Regions from separate parts of the Homo sapiens genome. Here regions 1 and 3 are each reported to be linked to region 2. Evidence: microRNA targets listed by miRTarBase, many of them from high-throughput screens and not tested one by one. Region 2 holds a microRNA gene; each other region holds the end of a gene's coding sequence.

Region 1 (7,184 bases), not on the chromosome of region 2:
CCGCCATTCCACACCACAAAAGCCTCTCCTCACCTTTTTCCTTGGAGCCAGTGTCCACGAAGAAGAGTTTTTCATTTGGGGCCTCTGACAACAAGCCACTGGGGGACAGAAATGCAGAACATCAGCCAGAGATGTTGGAGAGGAAAGAGATTTAACCTGGCAGGTCCAGCCTTCATCTTCCGCTTAGTCAAGTCCCGCCACCGGACTCTTCCAGGCTAAGGCTTCGCCCAGCAGTTTACAGAACTTAGTATTTAGGAAGGACTGCCAGGCGCAGTGGCTCACGCCTGTAATCCCAGCACTTTGGGAGGCCCAGGCGGGTGGCTCACCTGAGGTCAGGAGTTCAAGAGCAGCCTGGCCAACATGGTGAAACCCTGCCTTTACTAAAAATACAAAAATTAGGCTGGGTGTGGTGGCTCACACCTGTAATCTTAGCACCTTAGGGGGCCGGGGCGGGTGGATCACCTAAGGTCAGGAGTTCAAGACCAGCCTGGCCTGTAACATGGCAAAACCCTGTCTCTACTAAAAATACAAAAATTAGCCGGACGTGGTGGTGCATGCCTGTAATCCCAGCTACTTGGGAGGCTGAAGCAGGAGAATCACTTGAACCCAGGAGGCAGAGGTTGCAGTGAGCCGAGATCGTGCCATTGCACTCCAGCCTGGACTACAGAGAAAGACTCCGTCTCAAAAAAAAAAGAAAAAAGAAAAGAAAAGAAAAATAGCCGAGCGTGGTGGCGCCCGCCTGTAATCCCAGCTACTAAGGAGCTGAGGCAGGAGAATCGCTTGAGCCTGGGAGGCGGAGGTTGCGGTGAGCTGAGATCGCGCCTACTCCAGCCTGGGCGATAGAGCGAGACTCCGTCTGAAAAACATATATATATACATATATATACACACACACATATACACATATATATATACACACATATACACATATATATACACACACATATATACATACACACACACACATATTTAGAAAACAGCAAGCTAAGGTGGATGCATGGAACGTATTTATGCTAAAAATTATTCATTGTTTACCTAAAATCCAAATTTAATTGAGCGTCCTGTATATTTATCTGCTAAATCTGGTAACTCTATCAAGCTCTCCAGCTTCCCATGCTGAGTCCCCTGCCCATGCTCTCCATTTCCTCGGCGGTCCCCGGGACAGGAGCCCCCAACCCCCGACCCCCGACCCCCGACCCCCGACGAGTCCACGCAAGCACGCCTGGCCTTGCACCTGGGCGCAGGAACCGTCCCACCTCCCGGAAGTCCCGCCCAACGTACCCGCTCGTGCGCTCCTGTAGCCGCACGTCTTCCAGGAACTGGTCAACCTCCAGCCCCAGCGGCTCCTGAGCAAGCCGCCGCCAGCCCCGCTTCTTATTTCTTGGGCCTCGCCGCCGCCGCCTCAGCGCTGGGTCCACCGAAGTGGGCCGCAGCCCCAGGAAACCAGAATCGGCATCGCTTTTCGAGCTGCGCTTCCCACCAACGCCACTGCCTCCTGCCGCCATCTTGTCAAAGGAAGAACTCAGCCACTGGCGTCCCAAAAAGCCCCTTTGCAGCGTGCGCGCGCAGATTTCCCACCCTCTTCCGTGACGTACTTCCTGTGGCAGCCATATTTATAAAGTGACTGGAGTTGCCAGGAGGCTGCCATCTTGGTAAAGGATAAATGGCTCCTCCTTCCTCCATTCTTTACAGCGGGATCTGAAGATTCCTAACGGCGGCGGGTGGTAGGAAAGAGACGGGAAGGTTGCAGGTTCTTAGCTTTCGCCCTTAAGCGAACACCTTTCCCGGCCGCCTGGGGTCTTTGCTCAAACTGATTTTTTTCTTTAATAGATAAGGTCTCACTTTGTTGCCCCCAGGCTGGAGTGCAGTGGAAGGGTAATGGCTCACTGCAGCCTCCAACTCCTAAGCTCAGGGATTCTCCTACCTCAGCCTCCCGAGTAGCTGCGACCACAGAAGGGTGCATCCGCACCTGGCTAATTTTTTATTTTTATTTTTTGTAGAAATGGAGCCTCCCCATGTTGCCCAGGCTGGTCTCAAACATCTGGTTTCAAGTGATCCTCCTTCCTAGGCCTCCCAAAGCGCTGGGATTACAGGCTCACACCACCACTCCCGGTCCAAACTGATGTGTGTGTGTTTTTTTTTAAGAGACAAAGGTCTCACTATGTTGTCCAGGCTGGTCTTGAACCCCTGGGCTCAAGTGATTCTCCCTCCTCAGCCTCCGAAAATGCTAGGATTACAGATGTGAGCCACCATGCTCGGCCTGATTATTTTTTAATCTCGTTTTCTTAGAAAGTCAGAACCGTCAGTGGCAGATTCCGCACAACACACATTCCAATCTCAGAAGTTTTGTCCTCTCAAATGTTCCAATCCTAGGATCTTAGAAATCAAGTAACTTTCGGAATATCAAAGTTGGAAGCACAGAACATTAGAGGAATGTTAGAAACATACACTTTTAGGACCCTAGAAGTGCAGACTCAGAATCATTCATCTTGAGCGGGCTACTTCACTGTGCCTCAGTTTCCTCATCTGTAAAATAAAGATGATAACAGTACATCTGCGTCATAAGTCATGCAGAAGATTAAACATATGTAAAGCGCTTAAGGCTGCGTCTGGCATCTGAGTGTTAGCTATTGTTACTGCCTTGCCCTCTGAGGCTTCATCTTAGAATCAACTCATCTTTGTCATTTACAAATAAGGAAGGAAGCTCAGAGGCTCTTGGGCCCTGGCAGCCATTCAAAGGGATCCATGGCAGGGCGTGGTGATTCACGCCTCTAATCCCAGCACTTTGGGAGGCCGATGCAGGAGGATCGCTTGAGCCCAGGAATTCAAGACCAGCCTGGGCAACATAGTGAGATCCTGTGTCTGCCAAAAATTTAAAAATTAGCCAGGCGTGATGGTGTGCGCCTGTAGTCCCAGGTACTCGGGAGGCTGAGGTGGGAGGATCGCTTGAGCCCAGGAGTTGGAGGGTGCAGTGAGCCGTGATTGCACCATTGCACTCCAGCCTGGGTGACAGAGCAAGACCCTGTCTCAAAAACAAAACAATCAAATCAAAGGAATCCAGGCCTCATAAAAGCCACTCTGGACTCATAAAGGAAAAAGGCACAGAGAGGGCAGGCGACACACGCATGGTCACACAGCGAAATTCAACTGGATCCTTGCGCAGAGCGTTGGAAAGGTGACAGGCCCTAAAGGTGACAGGCCCTGGATCGCAGCCCCGAGACCTGAGCGCCGAATCACCTGGGCAGGGATTTTGGCGACCACAGCCTATCTGTTTTCTGAGCGTCCGCCAGGGGGCGCCGCGAGCCGCGAAACTGGGCCCGCGTGGGCGGGATGAGTGCGCGGCCAGCGTGTCCCGGGACGCCGTGGGTGTGGCCTGGATGTGAGTGCGCGGGACTCGGCGCGCACGGTGCGCTGCCCAGCTCTGGCCAAGAGTCCCCGGTGCGTGAGCGCGCGCACACTCCTGGCAGCCCGTGTGGGCAAGGTCACCACTTCCCCAACCAGAAACCAGCGTGTTCCTGGTGTTACGCGTCGGGAGTTATGTACCCAGGTTGTGCAAGGGCACGTTGCCGGGCAGGGCGGGAGCTGGGAGAGCACTTCGTGCCCGAATACACACACACACACACACACACACACACACACACACACACCCCGCGCGCGCCCCAGGGCTTGGTTCCCAGGCCCCCGCCGCGGGAGGTGGGAGGAAGGGATGTCCCGGGGGGAGGGCCCCAGAGTCACTTTTCCTCGGAAAATATGCCGTTCTGGCCCCCAGCCCAGGCCTGAGTCACCAGGCCTCGCTGCATTGAGTCACGGACTCCACCCCGCCCCTGAGAGCACGGAAGGGGGCCTCCCCCCACCCCAAATCCTGCCCAGGTCTCTCTTTCCCTGGGGGAGGGCGGGCGATCCCTGTCCCAAGCCAGCCTCACTGCCACATGGGAAGAAGCCTTGGCTTTATTCGCTCTGTGGGGACACTGTTCCGTTCAGAGGCCCCTCCCAGCCATGGGGTGGGGGACAGTGGTGGGCGTGGGAATCCCAGCGAGCATCCTGGAGGGTGCGTCGTCTCCATGTATTTTGCTCTTCCCCATCTTTTCCATGGGGTCCCCTGCCAGGGTCAAGCACTAATATGTGGTGAAGGCAGCAAACAGCGTCGGCGTCCCTTTAGGGGTGGGGAGAGGGCTGTAGCACCAAGAACCCCCTCCCCCGCCCACGACATCCCTGAAAAGGAGACTAAAATAAAGCCCCGGGGCCTTTCTACGTAGGGGCTCCACTTAAATATGGAATGGTGGTAGGCAGAGAGGCGGTGGCCCAGCAATCCTTAAGTCCAGATTACCAGCTGTGGGGAGGCTTCCAGGGGGCCAGGAGCAGGCTGGGCAGTTCCAGCCACAGACACGTGGGTGGAGGACGGAAATATCTCCAAGGGGGCACAGTATCAGAGGAGCAGGATGGAAGGGGCTTTTCTGCCTGCTACGGGATCCTTTTTAAAGAAATGGGTGTGAAGCCGGGCACGGTGGCTCATGCCTGTAATCCCATCACTTTGGGAGGCCAAGGCGAGCAGATCACCTGAGATGCGGAGTTCGAGACCAGCCTGGCCAACATGGTGAAACCCCGTCTCTACTCAAATACAAAAATTAGCTGGGCGTGGTGGCGCGTGCCTGCAGTCCCAGCTACTCAGGAGGCTGAGGCACGAGAATCACTTCAACCCAGGAGGTGGAGGTTGCAGTGAGCTGAGATCTCACCACTGCACTCCAGCCTGGGCGACAGAGCAAGATTCTATCAAAAAAGAAAGAAAGGACAGGACAGGAAAGGGAAGGGGTGTGGACAGAACTGGGGGCAAAAACAAAAAAGAAGGAAGGAAGGAAAGAAAGAAATGGGTATGGGCAGAATTGGGGGCAAAAACAAAAAAGAAGGAAGGAAGGAAAGAAAAGAAGGAAGGAAGGAAGGAAATAAATGGGTGTGGGCAGAATTGGGGGCTTTCCCCGAGCAAGGGAAGGGGCTGCGGAGGGGCCCATCTGAGGAAGCAGTAGGTGTGTCTCCCCTCTGAGCCCCCCATGGTCCCGAGACCTGAGGATGTGATGGAGCCGGTTGAGGGTGTTGCCTGGCTGGGCAGGAGGAAGCGGAGCAGAAGGGGGTCTGTTTATCTGCTAGTCATTTCAGCCACAGGGCTGCTCAGCCAGGGGAGGGGCTGGGGGCCCTGCCAGGAATTAGTGTGTGTTTGCGTGACTGTGTAGGTGCCCTCTCCTGGGAACGTCACCTTCCATGAGGGCAGATGTATTTGTCTATTTTGTTCTCTATGGTAATGCCCAGTGCCTAGAACAGGGCTGGGCACATAGTAGGTGCTCAATAAATATTTGAATGAATGACGGATGGATGGATGCCTGCGTGTGCCAGTGTGTGTGTGATGTGCCTAAGTGAACGTGAGGCTGGAGGTGTGAAGGGCGGACAGAGAAGCCTTGTCCCTCCCGTGGTCCCCTCTAAATGCTTCCACCGGGGTGTCTGGCGGTAGTGAGGAGGGAGACCCCCGGTCCTTACAGCTGGGCAGGGAGGGCAGGCAGGGCGTGTGTGAGCCGGAGCAGGGGTGTGCGTGCAGCCGACTGGAGCTGGGGAGCCACAGCAGGGCCATGGGAGGGGGGCCGGCTCACTCGGCGGAGCCCTTGTGGCGTCGCTTGGAGGGTGGCACCAGGCGACGGGGCAGGTTGGCGGGCAGCCCGTGGCCTTCCAGCTTGGCCTCGATGAGGTGGCTGGCCAGCGCGAACTCCTCATCATCCAGCATGCCGTCGCGGTCCACATCGCTGAGCTTCCAGATGCGCCCCAGCACTGAGTTGGGGAGCTTGGTCCCCACCATCCAGGTCTTGGCCTTGGAGCCGCTCAGCTTGCCGTCGGCAGGCGCCAGGTTGTAGAAGATCTCGTCGTATTTGGACTTGTCCTTGGTCACCACCCACTCGGCCTCGTCGTCCGAGCCCTCCTCGCCGTCCTCCATGGCCTCGTCAGGTCCCCGCTCCACAAACGGGCCCATGTGGGTGCCCTCAAAAGCGCCCCCCTGCACGCCCACCTCGGTGCTCTCCAGCTCCTCCTGCCGCAGCAGGGGCATGAGCTTGGCGATGTCGTGCGTCAGCATCTCGTCCAGTGCCTCTAGCAGCTTCGGCTTCAGCGAGTGAAACTTGGTGAAGTCGTGCGCCATCAGCAGCTCCTGTGGTGGGGGACAGGGGCACCCAGAATTCAAGCGGCGCCATCCCTGAGGCCCTCAGGCTGCAAGGTGGTATCAGGACACTGGAGAAGCTCGGGGGTAGCTGTTGTGGGGTTTTTTTACTGTTGTTTGTTTTGAGACAGAGTCTTGCTCTTGTTGCCCAGGCTGGAGTGCAAATGGCACAATCTCGGCTCACTGCAACGTCCGCCTTCCGGTTTCAAGCGATTCTCCTGCCTCAGCCTCCCAAGTAGCTGGGATTACAGGCATGCGCCACCATGCCCAGCTAATTTTTGTAATTTTAATAGAGACAGCGTTTCACCATGTTGGCCAGGCTGGTCTCGAACTCCTGACCTCATGATTCGCCCGCCTCAGCCTCCCAATGCTGGGATTACAGGCATGAGCCACCGCGCCCAGCCATTTTTGTTTTGTTTTGTTTTGTTTTTTTTTGACAGGGTCTCGCTCTGTCACTTAGGCTAGAGTGCAGTGGTGCCAACATAGCTCACTGCAGCTTCCAACTCCCAGCCTCAAACGATCCTCTGGCCTCAGTCTCCCAAGTAGCTGGGACCACAGGCACACACCACCCACCCAGCTAAATTTTTGTGATCCTCCCTCCTCAGCCCCCGCAATTCGCTGGGACTATAGGTGTGCGCCACTACGCCCAACTAGTTTTAAAAATTTTTTGTAGAGACCAAGTCTTGCTATGTTGCCCAGGCTGGTCTCGAACTCCTGAGCTCAAGCCATCCTCCCACCGCAACCTCCTAAAGTGCTGGGATTGCAGGTGTGAGCCACTGTACCCAGCCAGAGTGGCAGCTCTTTACTGACACATGCAGAAGTATTTGAACATCTGAACAACCTGTTCCGCTCGGGCACCCACCAATGAGAAGATACTTGGGCAACAAGGTCCCAGAGGCTTTCTCCTGTGCCCCAGAATTACTGGAGGGTGGGGAGGCTGGGGCCCCTCTGATGAGTGAGAGCAGCGGCCCTTTGCCAGCTAGCAGAGAAG
Region 2 (7,193 bases):
GTCAGTGAGTGGCCCCATCCCTCACTACACGAGGGATGTCGAGGGGGTGAGCAATTTGGGGAGAGGACCCCTAACCTCAGCAGACACCACTCAATGGGAAGAGGAGCCCAGAAAAATACCCCAAGAGATGGAGGCAAACAGAACCCCACCCTGCCACCACTGACTTTTCAAACCCCCGTCTCATCTGTAAAACAGGGCCATTATCAAGGTCAAGGTCAGATGAATATTTTTTGAACACTTACTATGTGCCAGGCACTGTCCTAGGCCAGTGGTTCTCAATCAGGGGCAATCCCCCAACCCCAAAGGACACTTAGCAATATCTGGAGATATTTTTGTCACGAGGGAGGGTGGCGCTACTGCCATCCAATAAGTAGAGGCCAGGGATGTCGCTAAACATCCTACAGCTCACGGGACAGCCCCACAACAAAGAATTAAAGTCAGAGGCACTGACTGAAAAACCCTCTTCTAGGCTAGAGTCTACAGTGGTGAATGAGTCCCTGTCCTCACGGTACTTACAATCTTGTGGGAAGACATAATAAAAGTGAAATAAATAGAATAGGTCAAGAGCATTATACAGGAATACAAAGCAGGTCAGGGAGTGAGAGTGCCTGGCAGGGAGCACCTACAGGCAGGATTGTCTACTTCAGCAGAAGGAAGCGAGGGAAGGAGACCAAGAGACGTCAGCAGGAGGAGTATTGGAGGTGATGGGGAAAGCAAGTGCAAAGGCCCTGGAGCAGGTGTGTGTGCAGCACATCTGAGGACAGAAAAGCATGGCTTAAAAGTGAGAATGGGGCTGGGTGGGGTGGCTCACGCCTATAATCCCAGCACTTCGGGAGGCCGAGGCAGGTGGATCACTTGAGTTCAGGAGTTCGAGACCAGCCTGGCCAACATGGCAAAACCCGGTCTCTACTAAAAAAAAAAAAAAAAAGGAAAAATTAGCCGGGCATGGTGGCACACACCTGTAATCCCAGCTACTTGGGAGGCTGAGGTGGGAAAATTGCTTGAACCCAGGAGGTGGAGGTTGCAGTGAGCAGAGATTGGGCCACTGCACTCCAGCCTGGGTGACAGAGTAAGACTCTATCTCAATAAAAAAAAATTAAATAGAAAAAAAGAAGAAGAAGTGAGAACGGGCCAGGCACAGTGGCACATGCTTGTAATCCCAGCACTTTGGGAGGCTGAGGCGGGAGGATCACTTGAGGTCAGGGGTCCAAGACCATCCTGGGCAATATGGTGAAACCCCGACTCTACTAAAAATACAAAAAAAAAAAAAATTAGTTGGGCATGGTGGTGCATGCCTGTAGTCCCAGCTACTCTGGAGGCTGAGGCAGGAGAATCGTTTGAACCCAAGAGGCAGATGGAGACTGCAGTGAGCAGAGATGTCGCCACTGCACTCCAGCCTGAGCAACAGAGCAAGACTCCATCTCAGAAAAAAAGTAAGAAGTGAGTTGGTGTAGAGTCGGGTGTAACATACATGCCATGGCTCCGGCAAAACTCTTCCCCTTCCCACGCACAACCGTCCCTGCTACTCCTCCAGAAAACATTGCATAGTAAGGACCATAAAGCGTCACCCAGCCGTGGGGAGGGACAGTGCTACGGGGAGCCACTGTGCCAGGTGCCAGGATGGCAGGGTCACCTCTGACGTAAGAATGCCCGGCAGGTTCTCAGCCTTTCACACCCATGGCTCTGTGACAAAGGCCAGGCAGGGAATACTTTCCACAACCACAGATGAGAACATAGGCTTACTAGCTCAGCTAAGCTCATAAGGGCAGTTGGGACAGAGCCCAGGTCTGTGAGGTCTGTGACCTATTGGTAGTGTAGCTCCTAGAGGATTGGAGCTGGAGTCATCTTGAGGTCCCCAGAGCCAGGCACTGGGCTGGGCTTGGACTAGGTGTGTCCATGAACTTTGGGGAATGAATGAATGAATGAATGGCCCTGCCTCAGGGTGCCTGGCCACCTACCCATTGCCCTCTGAAGACGTGCCTGACCAACAGACCACACCCTCAGTCAACACACAGGGTCCCCACTGGGATTTCAGACAGAGGGCAAAGAGACAGAGACGTGGTGGAAGGAGGGAAGAGCCCCCAGGGCCAGCAGGTACCCCAGATCACCCAACTCCTCTTTGACATCCAGCCTGGGAGCCCCCAACCTCTCCCCTAACCCAAACTGGCCCCAGGCCCTGGGTGATGAGGAGGCAAATAGTGGCACCTCAGCACCAAGACTTCCAGGGGTAGGTGGGCCAGGCCCATCAGGCAGAGACCCCTCATCCTCCTCCCCAGACAGCCCAGACCCTGCTCATCCCCATCAGAGGGCACCAAGCACTCACCTACTGCCAGGTTTACTGGCATTTCTTTGTCAAATGAATAAATGGCTAAATGAATGAATGATGTTTTCCATACCAGCTGGCAAATAAGACTTTTAAACGGGGCAAAAGCCCTGCTGGCAGTGAGTCGGCTGCGTCCATGGCTAGCTCAGGTCTCCTGGGGGCTTCTTCTGCAGCTCAGTTGACTTCCATCCTGAGAACCCACTGTGTGTGAGGGCCTGGCTGGGAGCATGAGTGCAGATACGGGCACGGGGAGGGTGCAGTGAAAGGAGCTTGGGAATCAGGCAGACCTGCATTCAAATCCCACCCCCAGCTCCCCGGCCCCCAGCTCTGTGATCCTGGGAAACGCCTCAGTTTCCACATCTCTAAAGACAAACGGCACCACCCACCTCTTGGGAGTTGCTGTAAGGGAGGTTTCAGTGAAATTTTGTGACAAAGTACCTAGCCCAGTGCCTGGTGTTTAGTGGGTGTTCAGAAATCAGGAGCTATGGCGATGCTACTGATGAGAAGGAAGAGGAACCCACAGTTCTGGCCCTGAAGACACCTTCCATCCACTGAGGGGGATAAAACACAGCTAGATTAAAAAGCAGAATGCAATCTGTCCTCAAAGGGAACAAAAGGGCCTGGGAGTTCGAAGAGAAGATCAAATCCAACTGAGAATGCGGAAAGGCTTTCCTGGAGAGAATGGCATTTGCAGAAGGCCTTGAAGGATAGGGGTAAGAAGTGTCCCTTGGAGAGGGGATGGCACGGACAATGCTTTTTGCACAATGACACACACGATGACCATCATCAGTTCTACAGAGGCGGGGGAGCACATGTGCAGGGAGGCGCGAGGAAGAGTTCAGGTACCTTACTCTGGCCTGGGATCTCCAGGGGAGTTTCTGCCTCAACCATTGGGAGCCACAGGAGGCTCCCCAGGCAAACAGAGAGGTGCCTCATGCTTGAGAAGGGTCTCTCTGCCAAGGATCAGCGGGAGAGGGGGCAGGGCCGGGAGACCAGCTACAAGGCTGCGGCAATAGTCCGGGTGGGGTCGTGGGGAGCAGGGATGAGGGAGGAGGGAATATGAGCTGCCGCAGGAGCTGGTCAGGAAGGGAAGGAAGTGGGAGGGAACCTCCTCCAGCTACTCCAGGACTGCAGCCTGGTGTCCTGCTGAGCCCTGTGCCTGACACCCCTCTCCCATCCAGGGGCTCACATGACCCCAGAGTTCACCCAGGCAGGCCCAAGCTCAGCGGCAGGAAGACCCCCTCTGAGGCCAGAGTATATGGCATGACCCCAAAGTCAAGCTGGGGACCACGGTCGTCCCCATTCACACTCGGCCCTAGAGTGGGGACTCTCCTGACCCAAAGGCCACCCAGGACTTACTCTGGGGCAGTTCTCCAGGACCCACTCCTGACACCCACTGTCGGTGAGTCAATTCTAGTCTGACAGCCCCCATCTTCCACCCACAAGAACTGGACTCTCTGGCCTCAGATCAACAAGTCACCTTATGTCACCACAGAAGCCAGTGCCACCTCCCACCTTCCTCCTCGGTCAAGATGTCAGATGGGGGCAGATGGGCCATGTGTCCATCAGGGGCGGCTCTGAGGAAGGATGAACGCCCACCTTCCCCGCAGCCTCAGGGCACAGGGGCCGAAGGCAGGAGAGGCCCCCTTTGGAGGAAGAGTTCCCCCCAGACCCTTCCATGAAATACAAGTTCTCTGAGCCTCAGTTTTCCTTCTCTAAAAAATGGTTTATCTTATCTTACCAAACCATGGAGACAGTAAAACAAAAATGGGGTTATCCTATGTTACCAGACCAGGAGACAGTCAAAAACAGGCAAAGGGTGCACAGTCCCTTGTACGCCCGTTGCTACTGTGGGAGTGACGTTCATATTGAATAGGAGCCCTAGGGTTTCTGCTGTCTCCATTTTCCTGCGGCCCCCGGAGACTTCATTTGCCTTGCTCGATTACCAGCCCAGACCTCCCTCGCTTGCCCTGTCCCCAGAGGCCGCAGAAAACAGACTCTGCAGTAGCCCCCGGACGCATCGGAGGAAGCAGACAGGCAGCTCGCCCTCCAGCTGTGCCCTCAGTGGACCTGACACACACCTGGTCCTGCTCTTCAGACACAGGACCCTGGTATTTCTAAGAAATCGGAAAACCGTCGCCCAGAGGAAAAGGAAGTCTTTTGAAGAGGGTGCCCGGCGTGGGCAGTGGGGCAGCGCCCCGGCACAGCCCCTTCTCCACCGCGTGGGAGGGAAGGGCTGTCGCGGCAGTCGCCGGGGTGAGGGAAGAGGGGTCCCGGGTCTAGCGGGGGTCTGCCCAGGACCCGCTGCTCAGCCCCAAATGCCCCGGCCTGCGCTCGCGGAGGAACCAGGGTGCGCCCCTGTCACGACGCGGGTAAGAGGGGCTTCGGGGGCCAGAGTTGTGCCCCGAGCGCACGTGTGCCGGGCCCGGAGTCCCCAGCGGGTCCCCAGAGGCGCGCGTGTCTGATGCGGATGGGGGGCGGCGACTGGGACTCCCAGCCTCCCAGCCCGTGACAGCGCCCCGGGAGAGCGCGGCCCGGGCACCCGAAGGCTGCGCACCAGCCGGGTGGACATGCGGGGCGGCTGTCCCCCGTGGGCCGCGCGAGTCACCCACCTGGGCGGGCAAGGCGTGCGCCGCAGCCCAGAGCTCCAGTCCGACGGCCAGCGCGGCCCAGACGGCGACGGGCGCCATGGGTGCGGGCGGGGTCCGGTTGCCCCCTGCCCTCGCGCCCTCGCGCCCTCGCAGCCCAGCGCCTTCTCTCCAGGCTCCGCTGCGCTCGCTAGCCCTCGACTGAAAGCGAAAGCCCGCGCCCCAGCGGGCCAGAGGCCAGGCGGCGGGGCGGGGCGGGGCCAGCCGGCCTTGGACACGCCTCCCCCACGCCCCTCCCCAGACGCTGCTGGGCCTCCGACCCGACCACTCCAGCATCGCTGGGCCGATACCTCCAGCGTCACTCCCAGCACTCGGGTGACCCCTCAACCTCCTCCTATCGTCCCCTCCTCTTCGAATCACCATCTCCACCTGCCCGGCCTCCACCTGCCCGGCCTCCACCTGCCCTCCCAGCTCCCACAGGCTTCCCTGTCCCGTGAGGGTGAGGCACTAATTTGGAAAAACATCCCCCAAAGCTGACAGCTGCTTTAGGGGAACCAAGAGAATTCTAGATCATTCACTTATTTAGACTCTATTTTAAATATATTTAATTCTTATTTTTTAATTTTTTTTGAGACAAGGTCTCACTCTTTCACCCATAGCTCACTGCAGCCTCCAACTCCTGCGCTCAAGCGATCCTCCCACCTCAGCCTCCCGAGTAGCTGGGACTACAGGCTCGGGCCACCATGCTAGGCTGATTTCTTTATAGAGATGGGGTTTCGCCATGTTGTCCAGGCTGGTCTCGAACTCCTGAGCTCACGTGTTCTTCCCACCCTCAAGTGATCTTCCCGCCTCTGGCCTCCCAAGGTGCTGGGATTATAGGTGTGAGCCACTGCACTCGGCCTGTTTAGACTCTAGAGCCAGACCACCTGGGTCTGGATCTCTGAACTGACCTCATAGGACTATTCTAAAAATTTAAAGATATGTAATATACATAATGCAGTCTGTACTTTATATATACTTAAGTAAGTATCTACATATATAACAATAGGCATTTATAAATCTTGGCTGTTGTTACTACTCTTCGCGTGTTCATTTATCCTTAAACACGCATCCAGCCTTCTCACAGGGAGAAGACTCTGCACTTCCCTGCTCAAGTCTCCTGCCCAGGCAGGGGGCAGATGAACAGAGGCTGGGAGAGAATGTCACCAGGGAAGCTGCAGGGCCCTGAGGGGCTGCTGAGACCAGGCCCAGGAGAGCTGGCTTCCCCAGGATTTACATCATGACCGAGCACCCATTCCAGCTGCAATCTGTCCCCCCATCCCCACTTTGAGTGCCAGCCCTAATACAGGGCCAGCCCTGCGGGGCCAGAGCACATTCCTCCAGCCCTGGATTACGGGGGTCCTAGCCCCCAGCACATAGGGCATTTCTAAGGGTTGGGGTGGGCTGGGTGGCAGGAGGCTATTCTGTTCCCTGTTTCCTCACTGCAGGCTGCCTGAAGAGGTACAGAGACCCTTGCTCCCGGCCACCAGCCCCACAGTGGAGCCTGCAAGGATGGTGCTTCTAGGTGCTGAGTGCTGAGTGAGAAACTGGGAAGTGACTCCCTGGGGATGGAAAACCCCACCTCCTGACCAGGAGGCTGGGAAATCACCTGGTTTCCACATGTTTCTGTGACATGGACCACGCTGAGGGTGTGGCTGGTATGACCCACAGCCTTAACTCTGCAGAGCCGCTGGACAGACATGCAGAGCTCTTCTGGCCCTTATGAGAATGCCTAGGAGCAGCTCCAAGGACTCCTTGATCCCTAAAATAGAGCTGAAGGCAGGAGGGAGATGTCACCTCGTGGAAGCAGGGGACAATAGTTCTCTCTAGTTGTCCCCCACACACCTCAAGACCAATGGGACCAACAGACTGTCTGCACCCCCAACCCTCAACAACCGGCTCCTCCTGCCAGTTTCCCTATCCCAGTGAATGGCACCATCACCTCCTGAAGGTGGGGATCCTCCCAGGCTTAGGTCCCATCCTGGGAACGAATTCAAGCTTAATCTCTATGCAACATGGGGCTTCTCCCCTTCTCCAGGCCGACCCAGGCTTGAGAGCAGGCGACTTCTCTCTGAACTCTGCCAAGTGCAGTTCTTGACTCCAGGGTCAGGCCCAGGGGTGAGGGTTTGGGAAGGAAAGGGCACAGTGTTCCATGGCAGCCAAAGTTGTCACCCATCTGGCACTGGGGACTTTGGGGACAGTTTCCAGCTCATTCTCTCTGGGGCTCTAGTGCAGGTTTCTTG
Region 3 (7,194 bases), not on the chromosome of region 2:
TTCTTGTTCAGAGTCATGGAGATTTATTTATTTGTTAGCATGCACTACTAATTGCTCAGTTTCCTGAACGCCTCTAGAGCTGCAGTATATCTGCATGTTCTTTTCAGTAAAGCCAAACTTCCCGCAGAGTATAACCATTGCTGCTATTGTGTTCTGGATACCCCGTTAACTTAAATTTCATTCTATGTCAAATGAAGACATGAACTCCATTGACCTCCTTGCCACCATGGTAGATAGCAGAGGCGAGGTTCATAGCTGTTGTGGCCTTTGAGAGTTTATACTAAAGTTAGCAAACACACACCTCTTGATGAAGTACTATGTATTTATTTTCCAAAGAAACTTCTATTTTCTCCAAAGACAAAGGCCAGCATTTAACTGTTATATAACACTTTTCAAAATGGACCCTAAGAGGAGCTGTCAGCGGTAGTATATTCCTTTACAGTTATGCAGTTCTTTGCATTTTTTTTTTTGATCCATTATCTTCTTTGATCCTCTTAACAGCTTGGTAAGGTAGAAAAGGCAGAAGTTATTTTCAGAGTGGCAGTCGGCCTGTGTGCATTGAGGCAGACTGTAGCAAAACTGTGGGTGGTGCTCAGGAGGCCTGTCCCCTGGACTAGCAATCTTTGCTCTCCACAATGCTGTCTCCTTTAGAAAGTACAGCAAACCACTACTCCCCACAAACTTTAGGATTTTATTTTCTTACTGCAGTTGAAGTAAATACACCGAACCCACTGGTGGCCCTTCTGCTTGGCAGACATCAGTCTACCTTTGCTCTAGGCCAGAAATGGCCAAAACATTCCATTCCTGTACCTGTGCATGCATTTTGAGAGATCCTTAAACTAATGGTAAAGGGTAAAAAATGCATCGGTGGTTAGGGACATTCTTATTTTCTCTTGTTGAGTGGGGGCAGCAAACTTCTACATGGGAGCCAAGATGGGTGGCCTCTTCTCTTCTTATACCTGTATTTCATATCAAGTGAGCTTAGGAGGATTATATTTATGTCCATTTATATTTATGTCCCCAATCTCTAATTCAATTACATTCAAGATATACTATGTTATATATTGGGAGAAAGGATACAGGGGATTAGCAGAATGTAAAGCAGGAAGGATAGTAAGTGGCCACATTATGGAGGCCTTGAATAGAAAGCTCAATCATGATGTTCTCCACATGTGTACTTAACGTTTTTACTTATGTCGTTTCCATCTGTCTTTACTGTTCTAGGATTGCGGTGGTCTCCTGTCTGAAGGAGATAACCAAGGCTGCTACCCCTTGGATGGGCACATCCTCTGCAAGACCTGCAACTCTGCCCGCATCAGGGTGTTGACCGCCAAGGCGAGCACTGACCTTTAGATTCAGTCACCTGTTCAGCCGGCACTGAGAAGAACGAACACAAGAAAAAGATAAGAAATACTAGAGTAAAGGCCATCAAACTACGCGATAGTCTCTGTTCTTCATCTGCTATTAACCTTGCCTTAGAAACACATAAATTATGAGATTTTTTTTAAAAGTTGTTACCAAATACACATTTCACATTGAATCATGTAGGATCTTGATGGGCCTTTGTTCCCAAGGACTTCCACATTTTTGCACAGATTATGCTCCATCCCATTCACTTCTGCATTCCTGTAACTTTTAATCCCTATGTTTGTCTCACTTTTCATCTGGTTGAATGGCTTTTCTTAGTGTGGTATTTGCTGTCACATAGTTTTTCCTGGGTGAGTCTGCCAACTCACAGGTGCTTTTAGGCTTGAAATCTCCATCCTATCATTTCCGTTTTGCCTGTGACTGTAAAGAGTAGCCATTCTTTTCCCATGTATTGAAGAGGATATTCTTCTCTTGCTTTATACTACTCACGTCCTTGGGGAGGGAAATGCACAATTTTTTTTTGTTAGGCTGTAAAGAATTTAAGCTGTAAATTACATAAGTTAGAACAAGCCCAAATTTAATTTGCAACCATCAGAATTCAGAATCTATAGTGACCAGTGATCAAGGCTAATTGGAAAAGAGTTATCGGCCCATAGCTAATAAGTAGTGACAGACAACCAAGCTTCAATATTTTTCTAAAGAAATTACAGGTGGGATATGCTAGAAAAGGCATTTTGGGGTTATGTTTAAAAAAACATTATTGTCCCACAATATTACCTTAAGATTTTTCTTTTCCGCACTACCTGAACATTGTAATACAGACAAACTTGATTTCTTCTAGAAGATAACATTTTCAATACTGTCCCACTTCTCATCTTAAAAATATTGTCATGTTTATTCTAATATCCAACACAACTATCAAAATTGCCTTTTTCTCTAGAGGATGAAGGCTGTGAAAAAACCGTTCAAATTCTCTTCTTTTTCTTTTTTATTACCAGGTCCATTTTGCCTGACAATTGCAAATCAGAGCATACAAAATAAAACTGTGCAGTTTTGTTTGGTTTACTTTCAAAAGAGTAGAAAGCTTGAAAAGATTCTGAAACCACAGTTTCATTATTCTCATAATCCTTCTGCAACTGAAATTACATATTGCAGGAGACATTTTCATATCATCAATGTGACATTTACACCACACTTTCAAAGACAATCACTGAAACAAAAATTGTCTTTATGAGCTAAAAATATGCAGAATCTCTGCCTAGAATCTTTATTCAAACTTTTATTAGCCAGTGAAACACTTGCTTGCCAACTGCCAAGCCATACTTATTAAGTTCGAACATGTTTCACTTAAGGAGAGACACCTAGCTTAGTCATGGCAAGTTGCCATTTTGTAAACTAAGGATTTTGGACTGAGATTTCTTAAATCTTTCTTCAAATCTCCCACAAGTATATACTTTTAAATTATGGAGTATTTTAAGTCTACAAAAAGGTATAAATAATAATATAATGAATTCCTATATACCTAATACCCAGTTTAAGACACCAAATATAACAAGTATAATTACATCCTCCAATGTACCGTTTCCTTATTCCACAGATATCTTTTTCATTATTGTGAAGTGATGTTCAGATTTCTAGTTTTTTTTCTAGTTTTTAATTTTAACATCAGAACTGAAATAAAAAATTATGGATACGTGTTTTGAATTGCAAACTATTCCTCAGGAATTCCAATTAAATTTATTTTACTTGAATAGGAATGATCATAAAAGTGATTCTTTTTTTGTGACTAGAAATTCTTAAGCCGATGGTCACTATAGCTCATCCTTAATGTATGGCTCATTTGCTTTTGTCACTAAACGGTTTTGTGTTAGAACCACCAAAATTATAGCTTTTAAGAGCTTCCTTTGACCACTGTCTTTTTCTTACCCTAGTTCTCTTATCTTTGATCGTATATTTCTCATAATGTGAAATATGATGAGATTCACTTAGGGGCAGCATGTTAGTTTTGGGAGGCAATGTCAACTGTGTCTCTGAATTCCTGTCTTCCAAATTGAAGCCAGACCATGCTGATGACCTCAAGTAGCACTGACTATTTGACAATAGGGCTGATAATGTAATCGGCTTGAATTTTGACTTAGTAACTTTTTATGTAATACTTTCGGAGAAATTCTCTTTAGGACAAAGCAGAGAGTCCAATTTATTGAGGGATAGATTGTATCTCTTAAAGTGGTCATATTATTATTAATTTTGCCAAAAGAAGAAGAATTTATTGAATATTTATACTATAAAATGCAGTAACATTCTACTTGCTTATTACATTTAAATCCTTGTGTAACTGAATGTTTACATGTCAAGAGGAAAAGCTGTAAGAAAATGCTGTCACAGACCCATCCCTGTGGCATCGTCAGCAGAATACTGCTTGCTTACAATCTTTATTATGCATTCTTATAACATAACCTCAGAGTATCTTTACCAAAGGTTTTTAAAGTAAATCTCTTTTTAAGATAGACTTATTCTTTTATAATAATGAATGTGCACTCATACATATGTAGAAACATTTAGATTTAGAGTTTTTTTTTTCTTTCACAAGGTATAATAAGGAAAGGATCCTACAATATTTTATTCTAGGGTTTCTTAAATATATGATTTATATTACTGTCTTTTCTATTAATCATTTGATTTAAACAATGCCAAGTCACTCTTTTTTAGTTGCATGAAATTTTGCCTGCAACAGAGAGAAAAAGATTGTATTACTTTAATGATTATAATCATACTGTCTGCTGATATAATATCATAATTGTTGTGGTTTAAATACATAAATAGTAGAAAAATCAGAGTCTATAACAGAAAGTTTGTAAAAATATACTGATTTTGAAAAGTATCAGGAATATAAATATTTGGTAATTCTGTGTAACAAGAGAGACATGGAAAAGGAAAAAAATCCACTATATCATGGGCTCTGCAGAACATATCAAAATAGGATTTCTTAAATTTTTCAACCCCCAGACCATACTGACTCAACATGGAGTCTCACTGGCCAAGAAAATTGCCTTTAAAACTCGAAAATAAGGCCAGGTGTGGTGACTCACACTTGTAATCCCAGCAATTTGGGAGGCTGAGACAGGAGGATTGCCTGAGGCCAGGAGTTTGACACCAGCCTGGGCAACATAGTGAGACCTTGTCTCTACAAAAAATAAAATAAAATAAAAACCAAATTAGCCAGACATGGTGGCATGCGCTTGTTTAAAAAAACAAATAAATAAATAATCGACTCAAAAATAAGTCATGTGTCCCAGCATAAGGCATCAGGTTGTTAGATGCTGGCATCTCTGCAGCTCAAAGATGTGGGTTCTTTTTCTTGTCATTAACACATTGTTATTTCTGTAGGAGCAACTTCTCTGATCAAAATTACTTTTCTGGGTATGTGCTGATTAAGGGGGTGGACTTATCAACACTATAATTGTTCCCTATGAAAGATTCCACAGAGATGTTTATGGTGAGGTTTAAAGGATATGAAACTCTACATTTAAACAAGTATTTTATATTTGGGTACAGAGGAAGAAAGAGAGGGCTTTTTCCATGGGGCTATAGTAGAGAGTTAGTGGAATATAGACAGGACTCTGAAAACACAACTTCCAGCCATTTTTTTAGTTAGTAAAAATCCTATTAATGTGAACCAGCCAGGAATAACAGTGTTATTTCTATTGGATATGGTTTGGGCTTCTCTTGTCAAATCTGTGTCGGCTGCCCCCTGATCCTTCCATTATCAAGTTTTGAAGGGTGTTGGGGAAATTATGGCAGCTGCTAGGGAGATCAGGGAAACACTGATGTAACCTCAAAGCCTCTCACCATTCCTCTTGGCTTGGAAAGGCTTTATTTTTTCATATACATTTCTAGAAATATTGCTATTCTACCTTAGTATTTCACATTTGTAGTTCAAACAAGCGATTGTCCATCTGTTGCCTAGAGCTATAGTACATGTGTGTTATGAATGAAATATGACAGCATGTTCCATACCCCTGCTTTAGCCATCTGTGGGAAACCAGCAAACTGAAAAAGACACCTCTGCAAAATGTGCCTCAAGTCCATTTCTTGGGATCGCTCGTTTGGTGCACTCTCGTGGGAGACAATCAGAGAACAACATATACTTGTGCCTTATTTTCAAAGAATCTATTTACACTACTATGAATATTCCACTGAAGAGTCAATGATGTAAATGATAACCACCAAATCTCAAAAATATACTCACCAAAAAGTAAAAAAGTAAAAAAAAAAAAAAAAGAAAGAAAGAAAAGAAAGAGAGAGAAGTCAACTTTTCATCTTAATATATTCTAGTAGTATTTATTTTTTCCTTGTCTTGGAAGTATCTCATAGGTCTTTAAATGAGTAAAACATTTTTATGCCAGAAGGTGATATAATGGATGTTAGTGTTTTTTATTTGATTTTACAGTAGTTTTAGTCAGATAATGAGGACAGAGACTTCAACTTGATTCTTTACCACCATTCAGCATATTTTTTAATTGTCTTCATTGTATTTGCTTAATAGTGGTCCAGACAAGTTCAAAACTTGTTCTCAGTGAGGCATTAATATGGTGCAACCATGAATATTTCAGGCCAAGTTATTCACTTGACAGATAACTAGAATGAAACTTTTCTCATGAGGCTGTTGTTTGGTTAGCATAGCCTTATTTCAAACCTTAAAAAGTTACCTGACTGAAGCTACTATGACTTGGTAAGGATTCTTCCTCTCTTGCTTTCTTCCTCCCTTCCTTTCTTCCTCTTCCTTCCTCCTCTTCTTATTTTCTTTCCTACTTTCCATCCTACCTATTAGTGTTGCTGTACTTGGATTTTTTGTAAATTAAATCAATGCATTATGATTTTAGGGAATTATGATTATATTCATAAGGGGAAGGCTACCAGAAAATATATGTGGCATCCATAAAATCTTCTTTTATAGGGGCATATTTTTTAGGTTGTATTTATTCGTAAAGTGAAATGAGATAATAGAGTCTTTCTGTTTCATGTTAATGAATTTTCATCAGGGACTGAGGTCATAGATTCTTGGAAAATTCATTTGTGACTGATCTAGTTTTCTCAGCTGTATGCAAAGTAATCTTTCAAAGACTAGGTTAAGATTTTTTTTTTAAGTCTGAAGCAATGTAACCCCAAAAAATTATAATTTTAATGATGGCATTTTATTTTATTCCATTGCAGCTTGATAACTTTCCTTATAGCAAAGGAATAACTATTGTATTTTCAGAATTTTAACACAGATTAACACTTAGCCTGTAAGACTAATAATATATTGTAATAGTTGATACTAAAATATTTTTCAGCAGGTTGGACAGCACCAGTTTTTCTTAGATCACAGACTACAGGCAGAATTTCCCTTCAATCCAGAAAAAAGGACACTAATTTCCTTTTCTATTTAATTTTCCTGGCCCTTGTGCAAAAAATTGTGGACTCTATCTTAGTTACAACATGCATGTCCCTTATTTTGTGGAGAGCTGTGTGAAAGATGCGTTTTTTTTCTTTTTTTCTTTTTTTTTTTTTTGAGACGGAGTCTGGCTCTGTCACCCAGGCTGGAGTGCAATGGCACGATCTCCTCTCACTGCAAGCTCCGCCTCCCAGGTTCACGCCATTCTCCTGTCTCAGCCTCCCGAGTAGCTGGGACTACAGGCGCCTGCCACCACGCCCGGCTAATTTTTTTGTATTTTTAGTAGAGATGGAGTTTCACAGTGTTAGCCAGGATGGCCTCGATCTCCTGACCTCGTGATCCACCCGCCTCGGCCTCCCAAAGTGCTGGGATTACAGGCGTGAGCCACC

What was found. Region 2 holds the annotated microRNA hsa-miR-7846-3p (CAGCGGAGCCUGGAGAGAAGG, at 5,075-5,095, opposite strand). A microRNA usually pairs through its seed, bases 2 to 8, with sites in the 3' UTR of a target mRNA and lowers its output. Matches are read on the target gene's strand: a 7mer-m8 pairs with bases 2 to 8, a 7mer-A1 pairs with bases 2 to 7 and ends in A, and an 8mer does both.
Region 1: miRTarBase lists EHD2 as a target of hsa-miR-7846-3p. Seed matches in the 3' UTR shown: 7mer-m8 at 5,110-5,116.
Region 3: the mRNA of LPP is a reported target of hsa-miR-7846-3p. The part of its 3' UTR that is shown has no 7-base or 8-base seed match.

Annotation. Positions count from the first base shown.
Region 1 is chr19:47,739,881-47,747,064 of GRCh38, reverse strand. EHD2 (EH domain containing 2) reads right to left here. Exons shown (of 6, transcript NM_014601.4): 6 at 3,931-6,184. The coding sequence ends at 5,633. NOP53 (NOP53 ribosome biogenesis factor) reads right to left here and starts at 1,519. Exons shown (of 13, transcript NM_015710.5): 1 at 1,282-1,519; 2 at 34-98. The coding sequence starts at 1,505. RefSeq lists enhancers at 326-826, 1,247-1,636 and a silencer at 3,201-3,310.
Region 2 is chr1:12,164,912-12,172,104 of GRCh38, reverse strand. It overlaps MIR7846 (microRNA 7846), which reads right to left and starts at 5,162; the gene lies at 5,067-5,162. TNFRSF1B (TNF receptor superfamily member 1B) reads right to left here and starts at 5,114. Exons shown (of 10, transcript NM_001066.3): 1 at 4,936-5,114. The coding sequence starts at 5,013. RefSeq lists an enhancer at 4,047-4,688 and silencers at 4,729-4,958, 4,969-5,278.
Region 3 is chr3:188,873,127-188,880,320 of GRCh38, forward strand. It overlaps LPP (LIM domain containing preferred translocation partner in lipoma), which reads left to right. Exons shown (of 12, transcript NM_001375462.1): 12 at 1,225-7,194. The coding sequence ends at 1,353. Among named protein-coding and RNA genes, the nearest start is that of TPRG1-AS1, 71 kb to the right of the region's middle.